Linked DNA regions of Homo sapiens. The protein of the gene in region 2 interacts with the protein of the main gene of each other region in a pairwise test. Each region holds a gene or a part of one and is shown on either strand. Other genes may lie near its edges. The genes, in order: YIPF1, APCDD1L, CYBC1 and FXYD6.

Evidence for each region.
Region 1: the proteins of APCDD1L (region 2) and YIPF1 interact in binary tests that used the Homo sapiens proteins (3 or more experiments, as listed by UniProt).
Region 3: the proteins of APCDD1L (region 2) and CYBC1 interact in binary tests that used the Homo sapiens proteins (3 or more experiments, as listed by UniProt).
Region 4: the proteins of APCDD1L (region 2) and FXYD6 interact in binary tests that used the Homo sapiens proteins (3 or more experiments, as listed by UniProt).

Annotation. Positions count from the first base shown.
Region 1 is NC_000001.11:53,872,769-53,879,797, reverse strand, and holds part of YIPF1 (protein YIPF1), read left to right. Parts: intron 1-1,075; coding exon 1,076-1,156; intron 1,157-1,395; coding exon 1,396-1,483; intron 1,484-7,029.
Region 2 is NC_000020.11:58,470,379-58,477,407, forward strand, and holds part of APCDD1L (protein APCDD1-like isoform 1 precursor), read right to left. Parts: intron 370-7,029; coding exon 231-369; exon of another isoform or gene 1-230.
Region 3 is NC_000017.11:82,442,059-82,447,754, forward strand, and holds the end of CYBC1 (cytochrome b-245 chaperone 1), read right to left. Parts: intron 5,564-5,696; coding exon 5,522-5,563; intron 4,639-5,521; coding exon 4,565-4,638; intron 3,903-4,564; coding exon 3,806-3,902; intron 2,534-3,805; coding exon 2,389-2,533; intron 2,067-2,388; coding exon 1,946-2,066; 3' UTR 535-1,945; downstream 1-534. Other genes in the region: HEXD (hexosaminidase D), read left to right, coding at 119-534. UniProt on the Homo sapiens protein: Functions as a chaperone necessary for a stable expression of the CYBA and CYBB subunits of the cytochrome b-245 heterodimer. Controls the phagocyte respiratory burst and is essential for innate immunity.
Region 4 is NC_000011.10:117,873,648-117,880,683, forward strand, and holds the start of FXYD6 (FXYD domain-containing ion transport regulator 6 precursor), read right to left. Parts: upstream 3,012-7,036; 5' UTR 2,945-3,011; intron 1-2,944. UniProt on the Homo sapiens protein: Associates with and regulates the activity of the sodium/potassium-transporting ATPase (NKA) which catalyzes the hydrolysis of ATP coupled with the exchange of Na(+) and K(+) ions across the plasma membrane.

The DNA.
Region 1 (7,029 bases), on a different chromosome or scaffold from region 2:
ACCGCTTTCACTCCTCTCTGTGAGTGCTGCAGACCACAGCTACTTCTAATCGGCCATCCGTTTTCCTTTATAATGAACAAAAAATATCTGCCTATAGCACCTGCCCTTGTCCTGCAAAGCAGCTCAGTGTTCACCGTACTTTTTGCTGTATGAATTCCCTTCGGATATCTGAAGATGACAGGCACAATTCCTGGCATTGGGCATGCATTCTGCCACCAAAGAGCTGTGTTGTTGGGATGGGTATGGCCCTCCTCAGGTGCCTCTTCTCAATAGGATTTTTTTTTTTGTCAGAGTAGTAATATTTTTAGTACTTTAGAGTGAGTCAATATATCAGATTTTTGAGAATTCAGGTGGCAATAGTAGGGAGGATTGTGGATGGATGGGGGAGGAAGAGATATTTACACTGCTGGATGCAGTGGCTCACGCTTGTAATCCCCGTGCTTTGGGAGGCTGAGGCGGGAGTATCACTTGAGCCCAAGAGTTTGAGACCAGCCTGGGCAAAATAATGAGACTCTGTCTCTACAAAAATTAAACAATTAGCTGGGCATAGTGGTGTACGCGTGTAGTCCCAGCTGCTTGGGAAGCTGAGGTGGGAAGATTGTTTGAGCCCAGGAGTTCAAGGCTGCAGTGAGCTATGATTGCACTACTGCACTCCAGCTTGGGAAAGAGAGTGAGACGCCATCTCAAAAAAAAAAAGCGAAAAGATATTTACACTGACTGCCTTCTGTATGTGTTGTATGTGTGTATATGTATTTATTATTGTACATAATTCTATATACTGTTGAATCTAGATAAGGGAACTAAGCCCAGCAGGAGTCTAGTGATTTGCCAAAGCTCCCCTCAGTGGAGGGGCCAGGATTTGAACCCTTTTGGTGTGACTTCAAAACCAATGCTTGTTTTTCTAATCAGGCTGAGAGTTGCGAATTGGCTATTTCAGAGTTGGTTATTGAATGTGGAAGAGCCTATTGTTTCAAACGTTTTGCTTTTCCATTAGATCAGATCCCTCCTGCACCCCACGCAGCTGGAATTAAGAAATTGCTTATGTGTTCATTATGTTTTATTTTATTTCTGACAGTTACTTGCTGGACAGAAGAAAAGCTCCCCCTTCTGGACATTTGAATACTACCAAACATTCTTTGATGTGGACACCTACCAGGTTTGGAAACCAATTTCACCTTTCCTTTTACGGGTAAAGGAGACTTGTTTCTTTAATGGTTGAACAACCAAATAATGTGAAAGCCTTTATATACTGAAAATGGTCTTACAAAAGTAAAGGGTTATTAGCATTTGAAAATACTATCATAAAAGCTCTAATGACTGAGTTTCAATTTTGTAGTAGTTGAATTTATTAAACTTAAAAAACTTCAGTAGAATTACTGCTATGATGTTTTCCAGGTCTTTGACAGAATTAAAGGATCTCTTTTGCCAATACCCGGGAAAAACTTTGTGAGGTTATATATCCGCAGCAATCCAGATCTCTATGGTATGTTTAGTACTGATTTGTTTACCGTATTTCAGTTGAACTTGGGTGAGTGTGAGGGTTGCCTGGAAATGTGGAGAACTGCACTATTGGTGGGGCATGCCATGTATTATTAGACTTTTCTGAACTTCAGTAGCAACCCTTGCAAGTAATTTTGGAGGAATACAATTATGTGTTATATTAGTGCCACGTCATCATTACAAGTACTAGTATATCCTTCAAAGGTCTTTAAATGGGGCTGAGCGCAGTGGCTCATGCCTATAATCCCAGCACTTTGGAAGGCTAAGATGGGAGGATTGCCAGAGGCTAGGAGTTTGAGACCAGTCTGGGCAACATAGCAAGACCCTGTCTCTACTAAAGGCTGGGTTGGCACAGTGGCTGCCGCCTGTAATCCCAACACTTTGGGAGGCCAAGGCAGGAGGATTGCTTGAGCCCAAGGAGTTTGAGACCAGCCTGGGCAACATAAGGAGACCCTATCTCTACTAAAAAATAAAAATAAAAAGAATGATTTTTAAAAATTCTTCAAATAACTTTACAACTTGAGACAAATTTAGTCACTTTGACTAGGTGGAGATTGGACCATTTGATGTTGGAGGAGAAGGTATTCTCACACTTTTTCATTGATATGCTGAGTTCCAGCTCTGCCCTCAGATGAGCTGGCTCCTTTTAGGATTTGGTCACCAGCAGTGGAAGTCTAAAACAGGATTGGGCCGGGGATTGTTGTCATCCCTGACCTTAATGCTGTCTGAGAAAAACTCAGAGGTCCACCCAGTACTCCTGAGGAAAAGGCCCCAACAGTGGCCTGTGTTTGAGGGGAGAAGAGAGTGCTGTCCGTGTGCCAGGTGCTGTACCAAAGACTGTGTGTGTACTTGATCATATCTCATTCTTGCAACAACCCTTGCAAAGTATCCCCACTTTTCAAATGAGGAAGCTGATGCTCAGTGAGGATCATTGATATATATGCTCAATCAGAAATGATAAATAGTAAAGCAGTCATATATGTTGATTTTAAATATGGACTCTAGGGAGCCTGGTGTGAAAACCATTGCACTGGCCCATGCTTTTCATCTGAGGGTTGTCAGGGTGGTTTCTCTGTCTCATTCATTCTTACTTGTAGCCTGAGAACATCCTGAGGGGCAGGCTCTGTGCCTCAGTGTCTTTAGTGCCTGGCAGAGGCCTTGGCACACAGCAGGTGCTCAAACAATTTTTAGCACCTTATTTTATGCTAGACTCTGTGCTAGAGGCTGAGGATTTAAAGATAAGGCCATGGTCCCTAGCCCCAATGAGGAAGAAGAGAGAACACTAACATCTGTTGAATACCTTATAAGTGCCAAGCGTGGAGATAAGCACTATTTTAGTATTTTATGCTATTTTATTTCCCATACTCCAAGGTAGCCTTATCTTACAAAAGAGAAAACTGAGATTAAGGAGATAACTTGCCCGTAGTTACAGAGTTAGCAATAATAATGGCAAACACACATATAATGCTTATTATGTGCCAGACACTATTATTAGGGCAGTACCTGTATTAACTCATTTAATCCTTATGCCAGATCCAACTTCATGAGGGAGATACTATTATTATCCCCATTTTATAGATGAGGACACTGAGTCACACAGAGGTCCAGTAACTTGCCTGAGATTATACAGCTAGTAAGTGCTGGGCTCAATTTTCAAATCAACACTGTAGCTCATAATCCATTTCTTCATCACTATGCTATACTGCCTCTCATGACAAAGCCAGGGCTTGAATCCAAGGCTTGCTTCTTTTCTGTGACACTAGTAGCCTCATTAGCTCATAGACGTGGTTAAAAGAAGAAGGTACAATATAGGTGAAGTGTTTGATAGCAGAGAGGATTAGGTTTTGTTGTGGGTGGAGGTTAGAGGAAGGCAGTTAAGAAAAAGATGACAATTTACAGAGTGTAAGGAAAAGATTGATAACTTTGACTACATTTCACCTAAAATTTAAAATTTCTACACAACAAAATAAACCATAAGTAAAGTAAAAAAATAAACCACAGACCAGGGGACATACTTCCAATGCATATAACCAACAAACAGTGAGAAACAAGAATATATGTCGAACTCCCACAAATTAGAAGAATAAACCAAGCAACTCTGGGGAAAAAATTGCCAATAAATATATGAAAAGATGCTTAGCCCCACCTGCAACCAGAGAAATAAAAAGTAAAATAAGATTATTTATGCTCATTATTTTAGTAAACATACACAGTTTGGCTTGTCTTCATTTATTCATTCAATTCATTCAACAAACATTGAGCTCTTGCTATTGTACTGGAGATACAGCAGTGAAAACATAAAAATCTCTACCCTTAGGCAATTTTTAATTTACTGAGCTTAACAATAAGCAAAGAAAAGTAAAATATATAGTTTTCTAGTAATGAATGCTTAGGTGAAAATTTAATAGCAGAGAGAAGAAGGACATGAAGTGTTTGTATAAATGGGTGAATTTGAAAATTTAAAAAGGTGAATTTTGAGTAATGACCTGAAGTAATTGGGAGTGATTTATGTAGATATCTAAGGGAAGAGCACTTGAAACAGAAGGATCAGCAAGTGCAAAGGCCCTGAGGCAAGAGCTAGCCTAGTACATTCAAAGAACCTCAAGAGGCTATTGCGACTGGATGAGAGTGAACAGGGGGACCTAGAAGGAGATGAGGTGAGAGAGACAGTGTGGAGGGACAGGTAAGGTCTCATAAGTCACAGTGAGGACTTTGGCATTTGCTTGAATGCAAAGCCATTGGAGAGTTTGGACAGACGAGTAACATACTTTTTTGTTTTTTGAGACTGGGTCTTGCTCTGTTGCCCAGGCTGGAGTGCAGTGGCTCGATAATGGCTCACTGCAGCCTCAAAATCCTGGGCTCAAGCCATCCTCCCCCACCTCATCTTCATGAGTATCTGGGACTACAGGCATGTGCCACCATGCCTGGATAATGTTTGTATTTTTTGTAGAGACAGGGTCTCACTATGTTGTCCAGGCTGGCCTCAAACTCCTGGCCTCAAGCAATCCTCCTGCCTTACCCTCCCAAAGTGCTGACCTTACAGGCATGAGCCACTGCCCCAAGCCAGGAGTGACATACTCTAAGTCAGATTTCATGAACATTGATATTAAGTGTGGCCAAGGATATGGAGCAGTGGAAACTTTTGTATGGTAGGTATGTAACTGGTGGGTATGTAACTGGTACACAAATTGGAGCAGTTTGAAGATGCTTATACCCTATAATTCAGCAGTTTCACTCCTAGGTAGATAATTTTAGAGGAATTCACATATATATGGAACAACATATAGAAGAATATTATCCACTGTAGCAGTATTGCTTGTAATAGCAAATATTTAGAAACAACCAAGATATCCATCAGCAGGAGAATGGATACATTGTGCTACTATATTTATACATGGAATTCTGTAGTTAAAAAAATGAATGAGAGCTAAAAGCATAAATATAGATAAATCTTAGCACAATGATTTTAAAAAGCATGTTGTGGAAGGATATGAATAGAATGATACCATTAAAAATATATATATATTTTTTGAGACAGAGTCTCACTCTGTCACCCAGGCTGGAGTGCAAAGGCGCAATCTCGGCTCACTGCAACCCCTGAGTCCTGGGTTCAAGTGATTCTCCTGCCTCAGCCTTCCCGAGTAGCTGGGACTACAGGCATGTGCCACCACGCCAGCTAATTTTTGTATTTTTAGTAGAGACGGAGTTTTACCATGTTGGCCAGGCTGGTCTCAAACTCCTAACCTCAAATGGTCTGCCTGCCTCAGCCTCCCAAAGTGCTGGGATTATAGGTGTGAACCACCATGCCCGGCCTAAAAATATTTTTTAAAAGTGACATGCTAGGTAACCAGTGTTTGTGTTATTCTTCGTGCTTTTCTGTATGTTAGAAATATTTCATAATATAAAAATGCATAATATGAAATTTTAATTATAAATACAACCTAAATTAAGGCTCTCTCCCACCCCCAACCCATAATAAGAGTAGGAATTTGGCAGGAAACGGAGAAGGCAGTATGAAGCAACATGGCAGGTCCTGGGATGAGTGGGTGTCGTAAGTCTCTGGAGTCCAGCCTTCCACTGGGGGTAGCTGGAGAAGTTACAGAGCCCAGATCCTGGGGCCTTTTATATCAGCCTCAGGAATTAGGATTTTGTCCTTAAGCAGTGGAGGTTCAGTGAAGGGTTGCAAACGGGGGAGAGGGATGATAATAGGAGAGGGACAAAAATGCTAAGGGCTGGGAAAGTTATCTTGCTTGTGTCCAAGGATGAGCATTGGGCCACATAGAGGTAGTGGGTGGGCAGGTGTTGGACCTTTCAGGCCACCTGAAAATATTGTTTCTCCAGCTGTTCCCGTGCCAGAGTTGTTAGGTAGCTTAGAGCATGGGGCAGCTAGAGAATGCTAGATAAGTCTTCACATTAGTATACATATCTTCCCATACCAGCCTGCCTTTAAAAAAGTTAATTAATATTTTAGTGAAAGGGTTTCATCATGTTGCCCAGGCTGGTCTTGAACTCCTGAGCTCAAGTGATCTGCCTGCCTCAGCCTCCCAAAGTGCTGGGATTATAGGTGTGAGCCACCGCATTCCCCCCCGCCCCCACTTTTTTTTTTTTTGAGATGAGGTCTTGCTGTGTTGCCAAGGCTGGAGTGCGGTAGCTATTCAGAGGCATGATCATAGCTCCCTGCTGCCTCAAACTCCTAGCCTCAAGTGACCCTCTCACCTCAGTGTCCTGAGTAGCTGGGACTACAGGCTTAAGCCACCAGGCCCAATTCACAGGCTTCCTGTTGCCCTCAAGATAAATTCCTAACTCAACAGGGCTTCTAAGACCCTTCATGATCTGACTCTGGCCCATCTCTTCAATCTCTGGCTACTCCTGACCTGAAGCTTGGCCTCGAACTGGTACCTCTTACTTCAGTCTCTGCTCCTGCTATTCCCTCTTCACGGACCTCTCTTCTCTTCTGTCCTCACTTGGTGAACTCCTGTTCTTCTTTAGATCCCAGCTTACACATCCCTTTCTCTAGGTTTTCCACCTTCCCTATATGCTCCCATAGGCACCCTGTACTACCTTCTGAGATTAGATATTTTATTGATCGTCTCCCCGGAGTGCATGGGTGCACTAGAGGCAGTGACTGTGTCTCTGTTGCCCATCATCGTGTCCCCAGCAGAGGGTAGTGGGTACTTAGTAAATAATGACTGAGAGGACATAATATTCTTGGTTTTCTAGTTATTTGGGTATTGTAAGTTAATATTTTGGCCACTTGTGGTCATACCCTTGGATGGTCTCAGCTCATCTATAACACATGGTCAGATTTATTCATTCAGTAAAGCTTTTTGGCTATAGGGGCTTTGTGGGGTTTTTTGTTTGTTGTTGGTTTTTTTTGCCACTCTTATGTGTGGTCACTCAGAATAATACTGTGAGATTTAGTCCTTGTCTACAGCAGAAAGCTTTCAGTCTAGTGAGTAAAGAGGCAGTTTGTGGAGAGCTAATATTGGTGACTTTTTGAAGCATACCCATTTGATTGCTTGTGTTCCT
Region 2 (7,029 bases):
TAGGTGTTCAAGGTGTTGAATGGATTTTGACCATGGACGTGATGCCCAACAGAGTCCCTGCCTCCCATTGCACTCTGGGAGGGGAGGCAAGCATCTCCAGCAGCTTGGCAGGTAGAAGGCCTCTTGGATAACTATGTGAATTATGCCCATTTCAAAGATTGGATGCCGAGTCCCAGAGGCAGAAGTCTCCCAGTCCAGGGGTCCATGGTCAGGATGACCTGAAGTCTTACCCTGTGGAGATCCAAGGTCCATTAAGGCGTGGAGGCAGGATCGCAGTGCTGGGCACTCTATCTGGCAAGGGCTGCTGGCAGTGGGGTTCCCAGCGCAGGCAGCTGCCCCCGGCCTCCCCAGCCGCCGGTGCAGTGTGGGCTGCAAAGCAGACAGACCTGGGTAAGACCCCAGCATGCCCCGGGAACACCCACCCCATCTGCCCTCCCAACCCCACTGTGGCCACAGAGAGCCAGGCAGGGCTGTCCCGCAACCTCCATCGCAGCCCCGTCCCCAGGGTGCCCCAGTTCTGGAGACAGTGATGGGTTCCCCATATTGAGGATCCTAGAATCAGCCTCCCCGACGCATCTCCTCCTGGGTTCCCAGATGTGATCACCCTAGAATCCAAGCCTCCTAGATGGAGCCTGTCCCAGATTCTGGGGCTGGGAGGCCTCTGAGAATTGTACACGTGGAGCAGACTCTTAGAAGCCCAGACCTTCCACGGGCTCATCAGCCGTGGCTGAGTCCTGCCTGCTGGTGGCTGAAGGACCCACGCTCCTGGACAAAGGGCACTCTGGACTCAGGACCCAAGGTGCTGGGGACAGTGGGGCCCTAGCCTATCCCTAGAGCAGACCACTCCCCTCCACCAAGGAGCCCTGGGGGCTGCTTGGCCTCTCCCGGCACACAGCAGGCCCCTCGAGGCCACTCGCTTCAGGTCTCACCTGGTGCTGGGCACCTGCTATCTACTCGGTGCTCAGCGAGCGTGTGGCAAGGGAAAGAGCGCATGGCCGCTGCAGAGGCCCGGGCCGAGGTGTGAGGCCAAACAATGCAGGCCCTGCCCTTCTTCAGGGCTCCGTCCCTAAGCCCAGACACCAGGGGGAGGAATTGGGCTCAGGGCAGAAGGTGACTGGAAGATGGACACGGGAAGCAGGCGCTGCAGCACAAGCTCCAGGTCCTCTAGAGTGACCCCTAGATGAGCTTGGCTGGGCCTGGAGAAGTGAAGCCCGGGAGTGGGACTGTTCACGATCTTTTCTCGGGCTGCTGAGAGGCGAGAGTGCCAAAACCTTCAGCTGCTAAAGAGCAGCAGCTCTCCCAGAAACTGTCATCTCCAATCAGGGCTGATGGGCTTGAGATGGCCCAGATGACGGGATGCTGTGGGAAGCTCGGCAGTGAGCTGCGTCCAAATACTCCAGCCACGGGCTGTGCTCAGGGGCGCTGGCCTGGCCCTGGAGGCCCAGCTCCTGCAGCGAAGCTTCCAAGCATGGCTCTTCCCACCCAGCCTGGGGCTGGAGTGGGTCAGGAGGGGCTGAGTCTTAGGGCTCCAGTCCAGGGGATGTGGGGGCCTGGCAGTAACTTCAGGAGGCCTTGGGAGGGGTTGGGGGCTGAGTTGAGAAGTGAGCAGATGGCGTGTTCTGTCCCTTTCCTGACCTTGCAGGCAGACCTTCCCAGCAAGGGTTCAGGAGAGCTGAGGGCCCCCCACTGCCCCCGCGGAGCTGCCTGACCCCAAACTCTCTGTGCCCCAGGGGTATTTGAGGAAAATGAGGCAGAGTGGATTCCTCAGTTCCCTTGAGGTTGGGGGTTGCCTCTGGAGACTTTTGGGGTCCCCAGTGATCAGCTGAGAAGGCAGGAGTGACGCTGATTATGACAAGGGGGATGACGGCACCTGTTAACTGGGTGTGGACCCCTTGCTCTTTTATACATTATTCCCATCTGATCTTTGCAATAACCCTGGAGTCGGTGTTAGCATCATCTTCCTCTCATGGGCAGAGAAACAGGCTCAGCTCAGAGATGGGCTCAGCTTCCACGGGGCACATGCCACCCGGATGTGGCAAAGCCAGGATGTGAGCCCAGGTTGTTGGACTTCGGGGTGTGACGGCGTCACCGGTGCTTGTCTCACATCCCCAGAGAACACAAAAGGGGCTGACTTGGAGACGGGGTAAAACGCAGGGCAGTCAACAAACATTGGCCGACTGAATAAACGAAGGTATGAGTACAAATGCTGGTGTAGCCCTAGGTCCCTGTTGTAATCTTGGTTCATCCTGCAACTGATTTATTGGCTTTAATTAGCCAAATAGGAGAAATGAAAACAAATAGCCACCCAGCCAGGGCCAAGGTGTCCCCACACCGACTCATCAGCACTTGGGGCCACTCTGCCAAGTGAAAGAAATGCCAGTGGGATCTTGAAAGAGAGAGGCCGTGGTTGTTTTGTCTCAACTTGGCACGTCTACTTTGCAGGAATTTGTGGCAGGATATTGTAGTGGGTACGTAGGCACCAAAGTTGGGCCAGATCCCCATGCAACTCGCCAGGAGTCCTGAGCTGACGGGTGCACGTCAGCGTCAACACCACGTGCATGTGGGGCTTCTGCAATCTGCTTCTTCAGAAGACACTGGGTTTCCTGGATTCAATTCTGCAGGTTAATTTGAACATCTTCAGTGTCAACGAAACCTGTCCAAAAGTGTTGATTTGGGGGAATGGATGAAAACAGAGCGAGGAAAAGGATCAAAAGGGGTCAGCAATATTTGCCTGGTAGGAAAATCAAGCTTGCGTTTCAGAGTAAAATAGTGAAGGGGCCCTGCAAATTATCTTGTCATTGTTTCCACAAAACTTGGGCTCTTGAGGAAATGTTTTTCTGTTCAAAAGAAAACAAGGCTTTTTTTTTCCCCCTGCACCCTCCCTGAAGTCACTGAGACTAGATGGCCCTTTTGTCATGAATCCTCAGATCCTGTGTTTCTGCCGAGTGCATTTTAGTTTATCTTGTTTTTCTGTGAGGAACTGGGATTTAATTATGTTGGGAGACTCTGAGATACAGCGAAGTGTTGCTGCATTCGGAACATGTACACACAAATGCGAAGAGCTCCTCAAGATGCACCTGTGGAGGAGCATCACGTGGCCTCTTGGTCATGCGTGAAGTCTCAACTTCAAGGTTGCAAAAACGAAATTAACCAATTATAAATGATTCCATGACATTTTCTCCAACATAGCTCTTGGGGTAGATGTTGGATTTTCTTTGCTTCCCCCCCCACCCCTTCTCTTCCTCCAAAAAAGTCTTAACTAAAGAAATAACAGCTGAAAGCAGATGGTGCGGTGGGTTGGGTTACACAACTTTTTGCAGGGAAGTGATAGACGGAGTTAAATGCATGGACCAAATTGACTTTTATCAACCATGGATTTTTAATTAACAGTGGTGTCCACTTACTGTCATTCATTATTTACTGTTTACCCACTAATTAAAAATTATGCTGTTTTTGCATTCATAAGAGCAGGGACATTTGAAATTAGATAGCATTGTTCAAATTACCTGCAGAATTAAATCTAGAGTTCCCAATTGCTCAGACCAGGCTACCGGAGCTTAAAATATGACCTGCTTGAGGCCGATGTGTTATCCTGAATCAGAGCACCAGAAACAGGCCTCATGAACAAATACCATATGGACCTGCCTGGGGCCTTCCGGGGAAAGGACACTCACTGAGCACACCCAGAAGTGTGGGCACTTGGCTAAGATTGTCTTGAGATCATCAAATGGTGCCCAGCGTCTCCTGAGCACACATTCTGGGAGGCCCAAGGCCAGGTGCTTCATCTGCATCATGACCTTGAGTCCTCACAGCGGCAGCGTGTCAGTACCTTGGCAGAGCCCAAAGGATTGACAGGTATAATCGACACAACCACCCGTGACATGGGTTCTGTCAATGCACCCATTTTGCTGATGAGGAAACTGTGGTTCAGAGGGGTGGAGGGACTTGGCCATTGCCACTCCTCCACAGACAGATGCTTCTTAGCTAAATAAAACACAACAACACACCTAGTAAAATACACCTAACATAAAAGGTACCATCTTGGCTGGGCACGGTGGCTCACACCTGTAATCCCAGCACTTTGGGAGGCCGAGGTGGGCGGATCACCTGAGGTCAGGAGCTTGTGACCAGCCTGGCCAACATGGTGAAACCCTGTTTATACTAAAAGTACAAAAACTAGCTGGGCATGGTGGCGCGCACCTGTAATCCCAGCTATTCGGGAGGCTGAGGCAGAAGAATCGCTTGAACCCAGGAGGCAGAGGTTGCAGTGGGCCAAGATCATGTCATTGCACTCCAGACTGGGTGACAAGAGTGAGACTCAGTCTCAAACAAAACAAAACAAAACAAAACAAAAAATAACAGGCACCGTTTTAACCATTTTAAAGTGAACAATTTGGTGGCATTAGGACATTCACAATACCGTGCAAACACCAACACGATCTCATTCCAGAATGTTGTCATCACCTCAAAAGGGGACCCTGTGCCCATCAGCAGTCACTCCCGCTCCCCTCTCCTCTTAGATCTCGGCAACAATGACTCCGCTTTCTGTCTCTGTGGATTTGCCTATTCTGGATATTTCATAAAGATGGAATCCCACACTCTGTGCCCTTCTCTTACCTCCCTTCCCCAGCAATTCTCCTAGATGGGTGTGGTTATTCCAGTTTGCAGATGAACAGTGGAGGCCTAGAGAGGCTTCACTCCTGGGGCCACAATTTATGTTTTCTTCAAAGATCATGAAAAACGCAGGTATGGATCAAAGAGAGAAGAGGGTGGAGAAAAGATGTGAGTTTTGTAGTCAGAGCAGAGGGAGAAATATCAGCTTTTCAGGTACCTTTCTTCTGGGGGTAAAAAGCAAAAGAAAAGTACTTTTTTCTCCTGTAATCTGCTTGTTCTGAGGTTCTCGAAGCAAGGCACGAACGAACACAGGGTGGGGTGCGAGGTGATTTCAGGCGCGAAGCGAGCACTTCGTATTCCAACAGTCACGCGTCGGTTTTAGAGGGTGTTAAAAGTGGCGGTAGTTATCATAACAGCCTTGTACTTGCATGGCCCGTTTTTCTGAGGACTGAGTTTTAAAAGGTGATTGATCTGAACTTGATATTAAAATATTTGGTATTTTAATTATTTTCTTTTAATATTTTAATAAAATCATATTTTATAAGGAGATGTACAAGGGACTCGTGGGTGTGGTAAATGGCCTGAGGGTGGTGCACGGAAGACGGAGGGAGGAGCAGCTCAAGGTGAACTCGTCACCTCACCTGAGGCACGCGAAAGGAGAGCATCTGGGCATCTCAGGGCTGCCACGACAAAGACCACACGCTGAGTGGCTGAAGCAACAGGAGTCGATCCTTTCCCAGTCTGGAGTCTGCAAGTCTGAAGTTTGAAATCAAGGTGTGGGTAGGGCCTCTCCCAGCACCTGGTGGCTCCAGGTGTCCCTTGGCTTGGGGCTGCATCACGCTGGTCTCTACCCCCATCTTCCCATGGCCTTCATCCCTACTTGTGTGTTTCCTCTGTCTGCACCTGTGTCCAAATCTCCCTCTCCTTTCTTTTATAAAGGCACCAATCCCTGGATTAGAGCCCACCCTAATCCTAATCCAGTGTGACTTCATCCTAACTTGATTACATCTGCAAAGACCCTATATCCAAATAAGGTCCTATTCCCAGGTACTGGGGGTTAGGACTCGAACATATCTTTTTTGGGGGGTTACATTCAACCCACAGCAGATAACAAGGGCCATCCAAAATTGAGGTCCCCCAGGTGACCCAACTATCATTCATTCATTCATTTCTTCTCCCCAACACAAACACTTATTTTTATTTATTTATTTATTTTGAGACGGAGTCTTGCTCTGTCGCCCAGGCTGGAGTGCAGTGGTGCAATCTCGGCTCACTACAACCTCTGCCTCCCAGGTTCAAGCAATTCTCCTGCCTCAGCCTCCTGAGTAGCTGGGACTACAGGCGCATGCCACCATGCCCTGCTAATTTTTGTATTTTTAGTAGAGACAGGGTTTCACCATGTTAGCCAGGATGATCTTGATCTCCTGACCTCGTGATCCACCCACCTTGGCTTCCCAAAGTTCTGGGATTACAGGCGTGAGCCACTGCGCCCTGCCCCAAATACTTATTGAATGCCTGTTGTATGCCTGGAAATGAAATGGACTCTGGGTCTATATGGCTGCACATGATGGTCAGAATTCCTGTTCTCCTGGAGAGACTGACATTAATCAAATAGACTCACATCAGAGTAGAACTTCAAACCATCCCAAGTGTCTTGATGGAAATTTAAACAATGGCCAACAACTTCAATGATTTCCCAGTGCACTTGGTTCAATATCCAAGCTTTCTTGTGTAGCCTCGAAGCCCTTTGAAACTGGGTGCCTTTTTACCACCAGATCATCCACCCCATCCCACCGTGCTTTTCCACTGTGAGTCCCTAGTGCTGAAAGGGCAAACCTTTGGCTGCCTTGAGGCTATTGCCTGTGCTGTTCCATCCTCTGCTCTGTGCTGGGCTCTCCATCTTCGCGGAGATCTCGGCATAAATGGCATTTCCTGGCAGTGCATCCTTTCCAGGCACCCCTCTTCTGTTCACTCCATTCTCTTCTCTCCTGTGCAGCACTCATCACATCTGGCATTTATTATCTGCTTTCTTACTTCGGTTTACTTTTTTGACTTTTCATTCTGAAATAATTTCAGACTTACAAAAATGTTGCAAAAGTGGTAGAAAGAGTTCTAGTGTATGCTTTGTCCAGTTTCTCTACAGGTTAACATCTTACGCAGACATTGTGCAATGATCAGAACCAGGACGTTAACATCAATACAGTGTTCTTAACGAGTCTACAGACCTAATTCAAGTTTCATCCATTGTCCCATTAATGTCCCCTTTCTGGTCCAGCATCCAGTCCAGGATCCTGCATTGTATTGAGCTGTCATGTCTCCTTCAATCTGAGACATATCTTCTCTTTTTGTCTTCTACGACTTTGACACTTTTGAAGAGTAGTGGCTCTTATTTTGTAGTGTCCTTAGTTTGGGATG
Region 3 (5,696 bases), on a different chromosome or scaffold from region 2:
AGGTAGGGTCAGTAGCCCCATTTCACAGGTGAACTGAGGCACAGGGCAGTACTGACCATGGGGCTGAGGGCAAGTCCCAAGTGTGCAGACTGTGCGTTCATGGCGCCCTCACCTGCAGCCTCCTGGCACAGTGGAGCACCCTCGTGCAGGAGCTGGAGGCTGCCCTGCAGCTGGCTTTCTACCCGGATGCCGTGGAGGAGTGGCTGGAGGAAAACGTGCACCCCAGCCTGCAGCGGCTGCAAGCTCTGCTGCAGGACCTCAGCGAGGTGTCTGCCCCCCCGCTGCCACCCACCAGCCCTGGCAGGGACGTTGCTCAGGACCCCTGAGGGGAGAGCTCATGCCAGGGGGCTCCTGCTGGAGGCTGGGGGGGCTCTGCACTGCCAAATGGCCTGGGCAATACGGGCCCACGTGGGCGTCGTGCCCTCTGGCCCAGCAGTGTCTTGCCCACACTCAGTTCCTGAGGGCCCTGGGCAGCCCCTGGGGGAGAGACTAGAAAACACAGAAGGAAGCAGCACAGGGAGACCCGCTTTGTGATCTGCATGTGTGACACTGATTCTTTGGAAATAAAGAGTGGAAGCTGCAGGTGACACGTGAAGGGTTATTTATGGTTATGATGACCCTGTCCTGCAACGAGGGACTGGCAGCCACTACTGAGGAGGAGGGTCCCATCTCTCTCCTGTCGGCTTTCACCGAGGTCACAGCCAGACGTGGGGCAAAGGTGTTCCCTGTCCTACCCAGCCATTCCTGGGCCTGCCGCCTAGGGGCTCACAGGGCCCAGGAGTCCCCAGCTCACAGGCCAGGGCATCAGGCCAGGCGCGCTCGGTGCACACCGCACCTGGGAGGACCTGGGTACACTCAGGAGACCAAGAGCACTGGCGGGTCAGGATGGTTGGCGTTCAGCTCCTACGGGGTGGGGAGAAGTCTGTAGCCGAGAGCCCAGCCCCCTCCTGCCAGGTCTTCCCAGGTTCGAGAGAGGCTGGAACTCAATTTCTGCAGAAAATCTCCCAGTTTTTCCTGTTTGGTTAGTTTTTTTACAAAGACAGGATCTTGCTGTGTTGCCCAGGCTGGTCTTGAACTCCTGGCCTCAAGCAATCCTCCCACCTCGGCCTCCGAAAGTGCTGGGATTACTGGCATGAACCACTGCGCCCGGCTGGAGCTCCCGGTTTTTAAGCACTGCACGATACTAGAAGAGCTGACCTTTTTTCTGGCCTCACAGCTTATGCTGAAGCTGAGTGTGAGGAACAGAGAGACCTTTCTGTGACGACCGCTGGGGCAGAGTGGTCTATGCGCCGAGATCCTGGCATCAGCAAGGGAGGCGGGTCCTCGGGGAGGGGCAGCTTCCACAGTGTGGCTGCAGCGTGCACAGCCAGGTAGGCCCTGGATGTTCACCCCTCACTGCCCTTGGGGAAGCACCTGACCGCTGGGGATGTCCACCAGGGAGAGGACGCTGTGTCGGGGACAACATGCAGCATCAGCACCCACAAGGGCCCGGCCTGGCCCCGCCTCTCCACTCGCCCGAGGTCTTGCTGTGGCCCAAAGCAGGAGTCCAGGGCTGGCGAGACCTCCGGCTGCAGAAAGGCAGGCCCAGGCCTCACGATGGAGAAAGTCTGGATGTCCTGGTCTGGCCTGCTGTTTCATGCAGTGTGCAAGCAGCAGCATGAGCAGGCAATAGGCCAACTCGGCTGGAGGCACCAACTGAAGCCAAGGCCACGGGTCCTGTGGGCGGTGCACGGGCTCAGGCACACCGGGAATGTGCCACGGGTCCTGTGGGCGGTGCACGGGCTCAGGCACACCGGGAATGTGCCACGGGTCCTGTGGGCGGTGCACGGGCTCAGGCACACCGGGAATGTGCCACGGGTCCTGTGGGCGGTGCACGGGCTCAGGCACACCGGGAATGTGCCATGGGTCCTGTGGGCGGTGCACGGGCTCAGGCACAGTGGGGCTGTCAGCTCTGGCTTGCAGGGTCACCGGCCTCACTGTCGCTGCTCTGAGACAGCTCTGTGGGGCTCTCAAGGCAGTGCAGCTCCAGGAAGCTGGTGATGAGCTTGGCGATGGCTTCCACATCACTGGGCGAGGCCGGCAACGGGAGGAAGGTCAGGTCACCTCGGCATAGGGCACCGTGAGACCCCACAGCAGTCTCCTCCTCGACCACCTACCTCCCGCAGACCCTGGAGCTCCCAAACTGGACCCAGCACTTCCTGGCCTGCTCCCAGCCTCCCCGTCACAGTGGGGCTGCCCCTGAGCCTGCACACGCTTCCCGTGGGCCCCTCTGTGTCCCGTCCACAAACTCATCTCCTCTCCCAGCTGCCCCATAGCTCTGGGCAGTCAGGAACGGGAGTGACCTGCTACGGCTGCAGCTCCGGCCAGATCAAAGTCCCACAGCCTTACCTGCGGTGGCCCATGACTGCACTCTGCGTGAGGGGGTGGGAGAAGCCCGTCGCAAGCCGGAGCACCACCATGTAGCCTTTCCCGAAGTACCGGACCTTCTCCTCCTCCACGCTCACATCACGGACATCATGGAGCAGGACCACCACTGCGGGGAGACGGTCAGTGGCCGAGCCATCCCCGCCCACACATGCTGCCCGGCAGTCGCACCAGCGCCACTGGCATCATCGAAAGCGACAGCCACACTTGGTTGGCAGCAAAAGCATTTGCTGTTTCCTGCCTGAGGCTGGGCCCCGGAGGACTGCTGTGGCCCTGAAGGCAGTGCAGGGTCCTCTGGGTGGGAAGGACGTGCCCGCGGTGCAGGCTGGCGGGTCACATGCACAGCCCGCTGGTTCTCCTGGGAGTGCCGACTGCGGGGACCCGCTCAGCGCGAGGCCATCTTTACACTGCACTGTTCCTCCAGGTCTCCCCAAGGTTGGCTGCTGAGCCAGGGCCACCCTGCAGTTTCCCGTGGCAACTCAGGGCAGCCACCTCTTCGGGTACTGGGGCGGTCCCAATGGCTGTCAGAAAACGGCACAGCTGCCTCCCACAGCCCAGGCCAGCCCTGCAACTGCTCTCCCCAAAGCCACAGGTGACCTGGGGCCAATGCCCTGGCCAGGTCCCTGCAGGGATCCAGGAAGCAGCCTGTCAGAAGTGCAGCATTGCGGCACTAAACCCAAGACTGCCCAGCAACTCTGGTCGCCAGAATCTGTCCCCTCTGGGGCTATGCATGGGCGGCCGGACCCCGGGGCCTCTGTCTGTCTGTGCGGCAGCATCTACAGGAAACTGGTACTGACCACAGCTGGGCCAGTGCCCAGGCTCAAGGGTGGGGAGTTCCTCGGACCATCCAGCCCCTACTGCAGGCCCAGTAGAACCCACAGGAAAGCTGGAGCAGCGCCAAGGCCCGCAAGAAGCCAGGTGGCCCCACTCCAGAACGCCCACGGGCTGCCATGGCTCTCCCTGCCCCGTCCTGTGACCTGCCGCTGGGGCCAGACTGCACCTGCGGACAAGTGGCTGCCAGGCAGACGGGAGAATGCAGCTAAACAGAGGCTGCCCGAGCCCGGGTGGGCCAGACCCCTGCTCCTCAGACCCCTGCTCTGCCAGACCCCTGCTCCTCAGACCCCTGCTCCTCCCACTCTCCCCAGGGGCCAAACCTCTAAAGAACCCAGGAGGCTCTAGGACCCTGCTGAGCAGGTGAGCAGGTGGGGCGTATCCGTGGGATCCTGCTTCCAGCGGGCAGGACACAACCCTGGTCACCAAGCAGGTGAGCTTGGACCAAAGGCACTTCCAGGCCCCCCTCTAGGCCCCGTGAGTCACCCAGACGCCCAAGTGCGCCGCCTCTGTGGCCGTGTCCCATGTCCCCACGCTCCCCACGACTCACCCTGGTCGTGGCCAGCTCTGAAAAGAGTCAGCAGCTTCTTGTAGAGGCTGAACGTCTTCAAAACAACCTTCCCTGTGCTCTTGTCGAAGATGGCTTCCTGGAAACCGACATGCACTGACCACCATGAACCTCCAGGAACGGGGGCCCCGTGGCCGCTGGGGCCTCACCCCCACCCTCACCAGGGTGGACACTCAAGAAGGGGGGCTGGGGACCCTCCCAGTCAGAACCCAAACCCCTGAAGCCACAGGTGCTGCTCTGTCAGAGCCGGATATCGGCAGCCAACCCGACTCCTGTTGGGAAATGGAGAGGTGGGCAGGTGCAGCAGGCGCTTGCTCCACCCTGCAGGCAAAACAAGTGCAGGGAGGCAGTGGAACCAGCAAACGAGGGCATGGAGGTCAGAGGGCAGCACTGGGCCAGGCTGAAAGGACTCATGAGGGGCTCCGAGGTGGGAGGGCCGGCCACGGGGAAAGCTGACTCGCATCCCATTGTGGCAACTCTGGGAAGAAAGCACTTTGGTGAAGATAGTCATGGAGAGCTTCTAAGAGAAAAATGCCTTCGGGGAATTCCTTGGCCAAGAACGGTCCCAGATGAGTGCAGGGGCCATGTCCTGATGAACGGAGACCTCCAAGCAGGGACCAACGCTTCAGGACGGGGAGGCGCTAGGCCACCCAGGGCCCTTCCTCCTCCTTTCATTCCCATTGCAAAAAACCCAGGAGCTGAACAGCCCTGGACTCTGTCCCGCACCCGAGCCGGCCTTACCTCCCAGTCCTCCAAGTTCTGCACAGCCACAAACAGGCAGCCTGTGACGTAGAAGAGCTTCCAGCCCAGGCTATCTGGAGATGGGCATAGGGCGCCAGCCTGTGAGCTCCAGGGACATGCCCACGGGAGGCCCCGCCTAGCACAGCCTCCCCCAGACGCTGGCCAGAGCCCACGCTTGCAAGGACCCCCTGGGCAGCTTCCTGTGCTGCTGACCCTGCCCTGGCCACTCAGGACCCACACGCGGCACACCCCACCCAGCTCTGACCCCCAGAGTCCACGTGAGAGAGGCAGGTGGGGCGCACAGGGCCTCTGCCCGTCTGGGCAGGCCCAGTGATTGTGGCAGGGTGGGAAGTACACCTCATCCCACAGCTGGATCTTAGATCCTCAAGAGCATCTCTCCGGGAATATTTGATGACCCAAAAACACAGAAGACTTAAGAAGTGAAATGTGGCCGGGCGCAGTGGCTCACGCCTGTAATCCCAGCACTTTGGGAGGCCGAGGCGGGCGGATCACGAGGTCAGGAGATCGAGACCATCCCGGCTAAAACGGTGAAACCCCGTCTCTACTAAAAATACAAAAAATTAGCCGGGCGTAGTGGCGGGCGCCTGTAGTCCCAGCTACTTGGGAGGCTGAGGCAGGAGAATGGCGTGAACCCGGGAGGCGGAGCTTGCAGTGAGCCGAGATCCCGCCACTGCACTCCAGCCTGGGTGACAGAGCGAGACTCCGTCTCAAAAAAAAAAAAAAAAGAAGTGAAATGTGGGCTGAGCGCTGGGCAGGATGGGCGTGCGGAAGAACAGCAGCGCATGGAGGGCGCGGTGCCCGCCAGCAATCAAGGGGCAGAGGTGCCGATCCTAAAGGCCGCCCCATGGACAGTCACAAATGACAGTTTTTCCTTCTTTTCTCTGTTTTCCAAACAGCTGAGACAGTCATGGGGGGGTGGGGCGGGGGGTGCTTTACCTCCGCTGTAGTAGGCAGCAGCCAGGCCAATCGACAAGATTCCTATGAAGAGAAAGTGACTGCCTGCCTATTGATCCCGGTAAGACCCCACCTCCCTGGTGCAGCGGGACCAGGAGCCACAGCCCCTGATGAGCAGGCCCTTCCCACTGTAGGAACAGCTGTGGTCAGGGGTTAC
Region 4 (7,036 bases), on a different chromosome or scaffold from region 2:
TATTGGGGGGCTGCCTGGCACAGTCTGCCATCCAGATGGCGGCCGACTAAGTCCAACAAGGTTGGGAGGAAGAGAGGAGGTGCTCTTATTTAGGGGAGATTTCGGTGGGTGGACTCCCCCGAGGCTGTCGGGAAATTTCCAGGGTCTAGGAAACTGCCCTTTCTCCCCCATCTCCTTGCCACAGCTTCCAGCCTCGCCTTCCAAGAAAACATAGTGAAGCAGGCTCCTCGGTTGTACCCGCCCACTAAGGGACCCTCACTTTGGAAGGGCGTCCCAGTCACCAGCCGACCAAAGGCTCTCCCTCCATAGGTTTCCATCAACCCACCATCTCTGATGGTGACTGAGAAAAGAAAGCAAGGGTTGCAGGACAGGCAGTGTGAAGGCCAAAATCCTGGCCGAGGAGTTAGAAGGCCTCAGCGACTACTGGCCACGTGACTGCTGAGCCTCAGTTTCCCCCACTGTGTTCCCACTGGATGCTCCCTCAAGGCCTCTTCCGGCTCTGAGAAACCTAGGATTCCGATGTCAGGGATTGTGTCTCCCTCCTCACCTTCATGTCCCCAGCAATTAATACACAGTAGACACTTAAAACAGTTCTTTGAATGATTGAATGAAATCGGTCCTCAGGTCAGTCTGAAGATCCGATGGAAGCCAGGAAGGAAACGCTTCCCCCAGGCGCCTACCGTCTGTCAACCATAGAAGCCACACGTCTTGGGAGAACCCTGGCAAGCCTAGAGCCCTTTGCACACCCGCTTCCTCTCCTAGATGCACAGATCTGTTTGGAGGAGCCAGGGGGGAAGCAGGAAAACGTGCCAGGAAGAGAGGGTGGCCTGAACCCCAGGCAACGGCGGGTAGCCCTAACTTTCGCTTTCTTGACTCCTGTGGCCCCTCTCCTTCCCTCTTTCTGGTTTCCCTCCCCTTCCTGCCTCCCTGGCCTGGCCTCCTTGGCTTTCCTGGGACAGTAACCACTTTTCCTTCTCTCCTTTGTTAGGGCTCAGAGCCTCCGATGGTCCCAGAGCTGGCCTGATCCTCTGCTGGTGAGGATGACTCCCAGAGCCTCAGGCTTTCTCTGGGTCAGGGAAAAGAGCAGCGGCAGTGGAGAGATTGAAATTCTGGTCAGTGCCCAGCTTCTGGAGCCCAGCACCTGGGAATGGCTCTCGTTAACACCTGGAGCTCCGGACTGGGGCTTTGAGGAGGAGGGAAAAGGGCTGCGCCCACTCTTTATCCAACCTTCCCTTCCAGGTTTAGGGAAGGGGCTCCTCTTTTGAGGGAATCTGGCAGTGCCTTTCCCTCCACCTTCCTCTGCAGGGTTCCCAGGGAGATGTTAGGGTTTTCCTTCTGGGCTTCCTGAGCCTCCATCTCTTCCCCTCCACACCCCTAGGGAGGTGGCTGGATAAGGAAGGAAACTGCCCTCTCTCTCCCCTGCCTCAGCCCAGCCTGAGACTTATTTAGATGTACTGTGTGTGTGTGTGTGCATGCACAGTGCGCATGTAGGGTGTCAGTGTAGCATTGTAGCTGGTGTGTGGTGGTGCGGTATATATGCGGTGTGTTTGGTGTGTATGTGTGTATAGGTATGATGTATATGTATGTGTGGTGTGAGTGTGAGGGTGTGTTGATTGCGTAGTGTGGTATATGTCTGTATGTGTTTGTGGTGTTGGTGATGTGCAGTGTGTGTGAAGTGGGTGGTGTGAGTAAGGGGCCACTGCAATTGGGTGTAGGAGCCAGATATCTAGGTCTCCTAGCCAGGGATAACCAGTATCTAGGCAACCATACTGGGGGGAGGGGAGGAGATATGGAGGTGAGGAATGGGCAGGAGAAAGAGGGAGGCTGAGAAATGGAGGAGTTTCCATGGCAACGACCAGGCAAGTCACGTGCAAAAGGCTAAGTTGCGGACGTAGACATACACATCCATAATATGAGGGTGGCTGGATCCCCAAAGGGGGCTCCTTTCAGAGAGGGCCTGAGATGCCCACTGATCCATCTTCAAAGCTGGAAATCTTAGCCCAGCCAGACAGCACGAAGCCACAGAGACAAAGGAAGTAGTGGCAGAGAGCACACTGGTGGGGAGAAGCCTCCAGTAGCCACGGTCCCGCGAGCGTGCAGGCTTGCAGCAGGTGACGCGGCAGACCCATGTTTCCAGCGAGGCTGCTCCCAGCTCCCACCCTCGGGTGCCTCCTCTACCAGCCACCACTTGTAAGAGCCAGAAGCCAGCGCTGGGAGCTCCAGGCTGCACACCCAACTCTCCACGGAAGCCCGGGAGACACAATAGGGGAGGCTCTGCCAGGGCCAGCCCTGCTGGGGAAAGGGGGCAATGGCGGACCCCAGGGCCCCCCGGAAAGGAAACAGGATTGGATGGATAAGACAAGAAGGAGGGAAAAAATGATGCACTCTCATGAATCCCCGAGCGCTAGAATCCTTCTTTCCCTGCGCCCCCATCCTGTGCCCACTGCCCAGCCCCACCTTCCCCAAGCACCAAACCAGCAAGTTCCATTTTGTGTCGCTCATAAGTCCACACTCACACCCAGCCACACGCCCTCGTCCGTAATTCCCCACGCTCCACCAAGTGTCCACAGCTTCCAAGTAACAAAGGGAAAACTCCTCATGGATAAAGGGTGGGCGCAGCCCTTTCCCCTTCTCCTGAAAACCCTGACCCCAAGCTCAAGGCAGCACCGAGAGCAATTCCCAGCCACCAGCGTCACCCCCAGCGCCACAGCCTGCCTCCCCTAGAGGCTCCTCTCTCTTCCGACGCCGATCTCCTTGTTTACATCCCCAGCCCGGTTTCCCGCTGCCCAGGCGGGGACCGCGGCGCAGCTGACCGCGGAGGACCGCACACACCCACTGAACACACAAAACCCGGCGCTCCCGGCGCTCCAGAGATCGGTCCCCACCGAGCCTCGCCCCTCCTCGGAAAAAGGAGCCAACTTTGCCCACCTCCCCAGCCGCCTACCTGCACAGCCGGTCCCCTCCGAGACTCCCAGGAGGACCCGCCGAGTCCCGAGGAGCCTGGGAGTGGCGGGGCTGGGGGCAGGGCGGTGGGTGAGGCTTGAGCTGCTTTCCCGCCTCCCCTCCTCCTAGGAGTCGGGCTGGCTGGGAGGCGCGTCCTGCGGGGGCGGGGGGGGGGCTCGCTCGGGGCTGGGCTCGGGGACAGCCCACTCCGTGCTGCCGTCCGCTGGCTTCTGGGTAGCGGCCGCGCGCAGACCCCCTCTCCTCCTCTCCCTGTCCGTCCTCCCGCTCTGTGCTCGCGCGCGTCCTCTGCTCCTCTCTCCTCTCGAGGGGCGGAGAGATTTTTCCAAAGGGCAGTCAAGCTCCGAGAAGCAACAGGAGACTGCCGCCGAGGAGGCGTGCAAGCGCCGGAGCGGATTTGCCATCAGCTGTTGCTTTTCGGTTTCCCTCTGGTTAGGGTGGGAAGGGAGCAAGACAGGCACAATGACAGACCTGGTGTCTCTCTGCAATAGTAAACCCCGAGGAACGGAAAAATAGGAGAAAATAACCCAGCACCAGACACAGCAGCCCACGTTAATTGGGAGCCTTGGTAATTAAGGGGAATGTGCACCAAAAGCATGAATGGCTGTGTCGTGGGCGCAGGAGCCAGCTCCAGTTGTAGTTGTCATTTTCAGCTAGAGCCAGGTGGGGAGCTGGGGGGATGGTCCTTACCTGAACCATAGATCTGCTGCCTTGAACCCCCTTTTCAAGCCCCATCCACCTCTGGCCCTGCCAGGAGCAGTACCACCCCGTCCTCAGCCCAGTCCCCAAGAGTCAAAATTCATGATGACGAACTTTGAATGTGAAGATGTAAATAAATCCTGGCTCGGCAACCCTGCCTGTGACGCGACTTGGAGCATATCTCTGCACTCAGCTCCTGAGTCTATTTCCTCACGTGGGAAAATGGTGATTAGAGACTGACCCCATGGGAGGCTTAGCTCATAGTGAGTGCTCAAGAAATTGGCTCTTACTATTAGGGGCAGAGCTTGTAGGAAGGGGCAGAGGCCAGGCACAAGTGTCAGTAGCCAGGAGCCATGCTGAGATGGAGGCTGTCCAGCCTCAGTCAAGGTGTGTGTATGGCCGAGCCGGGTGGAGGGAGGAGCTACTGAGAAAGGCTGTGATTGTCCAAGCCTAGGTAGGGCCACGGAGAGTTCCTTACAAACCCCAAGCCGGGGATGATGGGTACTGCTAGGAAGAAACCTAGCCCTGCCTCTGCTGCCCTCAGTTCTGGGCCTGTTTTCTCATTTGGGAAAATAGGGAGATGGACTAGATGATCCTGAGGTCTCTTCCAGCTCTGCCCTAGATGATCTAATTATTTTAATAAAAGGTCAGGTCTCAAAACCCCAAGGCAGGAAATATACATGAACTCAAGAAGACTTTGGAACCAGTAGGGGAACCATAAATAGCTACTGAGAAAGAGCACCCAAAAAGCCTCCCCTCAGGGGATAGTTCTGGCCCCTTAATCATGGGACCTGGCTGAATGGATGCCACTCTGGCCCAGTCCTGAACTCCCTGGGGTTCCTGTGAATGCTAAAGCTCCTTCTCCAAAGCCAGACTCAAATCTTGCCTATTTGCGTGCCTAACCCTTTGCCGTTCCTGTCTTTTCCTCTATAAACTGAGGACAGCATTCCAACTGTCGTTTTCCCTTTTCATGTATTCTAGGTGGCAGATTTAAAACCACATCCCTTTCTAGGCCCATGTCCTTAGGCAGGTACATTCATCCCTCCAAATGCCCTTGAATCCTGCCTTTTGGCCATCTCTCTGTGCTTTTTAGAGCACCTACTAGTGATGACACGTCAAGCCCAGGCTTTGCAAGCCTATTTGGGAAAGGATAGTTCAGAACTCCAAAGCCAAGCCACCTTCTGGTTCAACCCCATTTCCAGCCAGAGAGTTCTGAAGTGTTTGGCCCAGTGACTTCCCAGGTCCCCCTACCTAATGCTGACCAGCCCAGGCTGCAGAGGGATAACAGGAACTAAATGTGCATGAGAAACCGCCATGGCTTAACTCTCAAATAGTGCTTCATCACGTTCCATCCAAGGGTACTGCTGGAAGAATTTGGGGTGTTACAGCTACAAAGCAGCACGCAAGCTTGTTCTGGGGTGAGTCACATCTCCCTTCTAGCAGGAAAATAAACACATCTACCCCCTGTGAAAAATGTGGGCATTCATAAAAAGAGGTCGCCAGCTGTTCCATTCTTTCAACCACGTATGGACAGGAGGAGCTACTCTTCACTGAGACCTGGGCCAAGATCTGAGGATATACTGTGGAGAGGAAAGATGTGGTCCCTGGGTGAGATAGAGATTTAGCAAATGTTCCCATGAATAAACGTGTAATTAAAACACAGTTCAGAGCCCTGAAGATATAGCATTTGAGAAAGGTCAGGAGATGTTAAGAAGATGAGGTAAAGGAGCCAAGAATTGGGATGTCAGGGTGGGAAGATGATTCTGCCTCTGGAACAGAAGCAGTATGTGCAAAGGCCCTGAGGCAGAAGGGGCATGGTGTGAAAGGAGCCAGGGTGGGACTGGCCCAACAATTCCTGGTGATTCCAGCTTTTATCCTGGGAAGCACTGATGGGCATCATGAAAACTGTTCTGAGCAAGAATTGGTGAGAGGTTGGGTTGGGATGTTCCTGGTGGACCCTGCAAGTCAGGGTTCAGGGGGCTGTGTGGGGGCAGCACTAACATGAAGCTGAGAAATAAGCCTGATCCCCACTAAAGAATCCTGCTTCTTTACAAGCCCAAAGAACAAAAAAAGATCCAGGGCAGGGCTGCGCAGCCATGGAGAAAGTAGGGTAAGAAAGGGTGGAAACCATTCCTGAAATACTCCCCACCCGCCAGAACTGGAACCATGGGAAGACCTGGAGCTGGAGAGGACAGCATAACTGCTGGGAGCATCAGGGACTGCTCTATGCTTTGAAGCTTGCTCTGGGCTAAGTAACTCACAAATGTGCAGCTAAAATCCCATCTGGAGAGGACTTGCCCTGGTCCCCTTGTATTGCAGCAAAATAGCCCTTCCGCATGTCAGTGCCCTGGTCACACAGCCACGGACAGGTCACAGAGTGACCTCCTGTGTCCTGGTCACACCGGACATGGAGGGCCTAAAGGGGAAGTTAAAGGGGAGAGACCAGGAGTCTTAGAAGAGACCCTCACCCCTCCTAGCAGGCATCCCTTCTAGTGGGGTGCCACTTCATCCTGGGGTGGGGCTGCAGAAGGGAGCCGATCTTGCCCACTGACTGCTACTTTGTGTCCATGCATACCCACTTGGCTTTGCACAGGTGTGAATGTGTGTCCTCCCCACTCAGCCAAATGCCAAACCCCCAACCCCTAGGACAGAATCGTTTCCTAGCTCCTTGGCTGAAACAGCTCTGCTCACTTCCAAACCACTCCTTGATCCTGGGTCCCTTCCTCTCTCTCCAACCTTTCTTTGTCAAACTCCTCCAACTTCTCCCTCAAGCAGCTGTGTTGAGTCCTTGGTCATCTTATGCAGTTGCTAGACAATCTAAATCCACAACCAGGGTTTTACCACCCGCTTAGGCTTGATGAGTCCACAATATCCAGCCCGGTCCTCTCCCCAGGAGACCCAGGCAAGTAATCCCAGGGAGTCAGCACCGCCCACTCCCAATCCATCCTCCCAGTCCACTCCCTATCCATCCTCTCACGGCTTGAAGCCGTTCCCTCTCATGTCTTCTTTGAATTCATGAATGGCACTGCCCCCAATCCAGTTACCCTGCAGAACACATGCCACGCTCAGACCTCTCCCCCAGTGCCTCCTTTCCTGCCCACCACTCCTGTTCTAGGTCAGGTCTCTGGCATCAGATTCTCACTGGTGACTCTGCCACAGTCCCCCTACCTCTAGGTAGAGTTATCTTCCCCAATACAAATGCGATTCAAAACTTCAATGGCTCCGTATTTTCTACGAGTTAAAGTCAAAATTCTTAACACGACATTCAGCCTTTACAACCTGACACCCACCTGCCTCTCCTGCTTCATCTCGTGACCCATTCCCTGCCCTATTTCCCCCCATCACCCTCATCACTCCAATCCTTGTAAATGTCGTG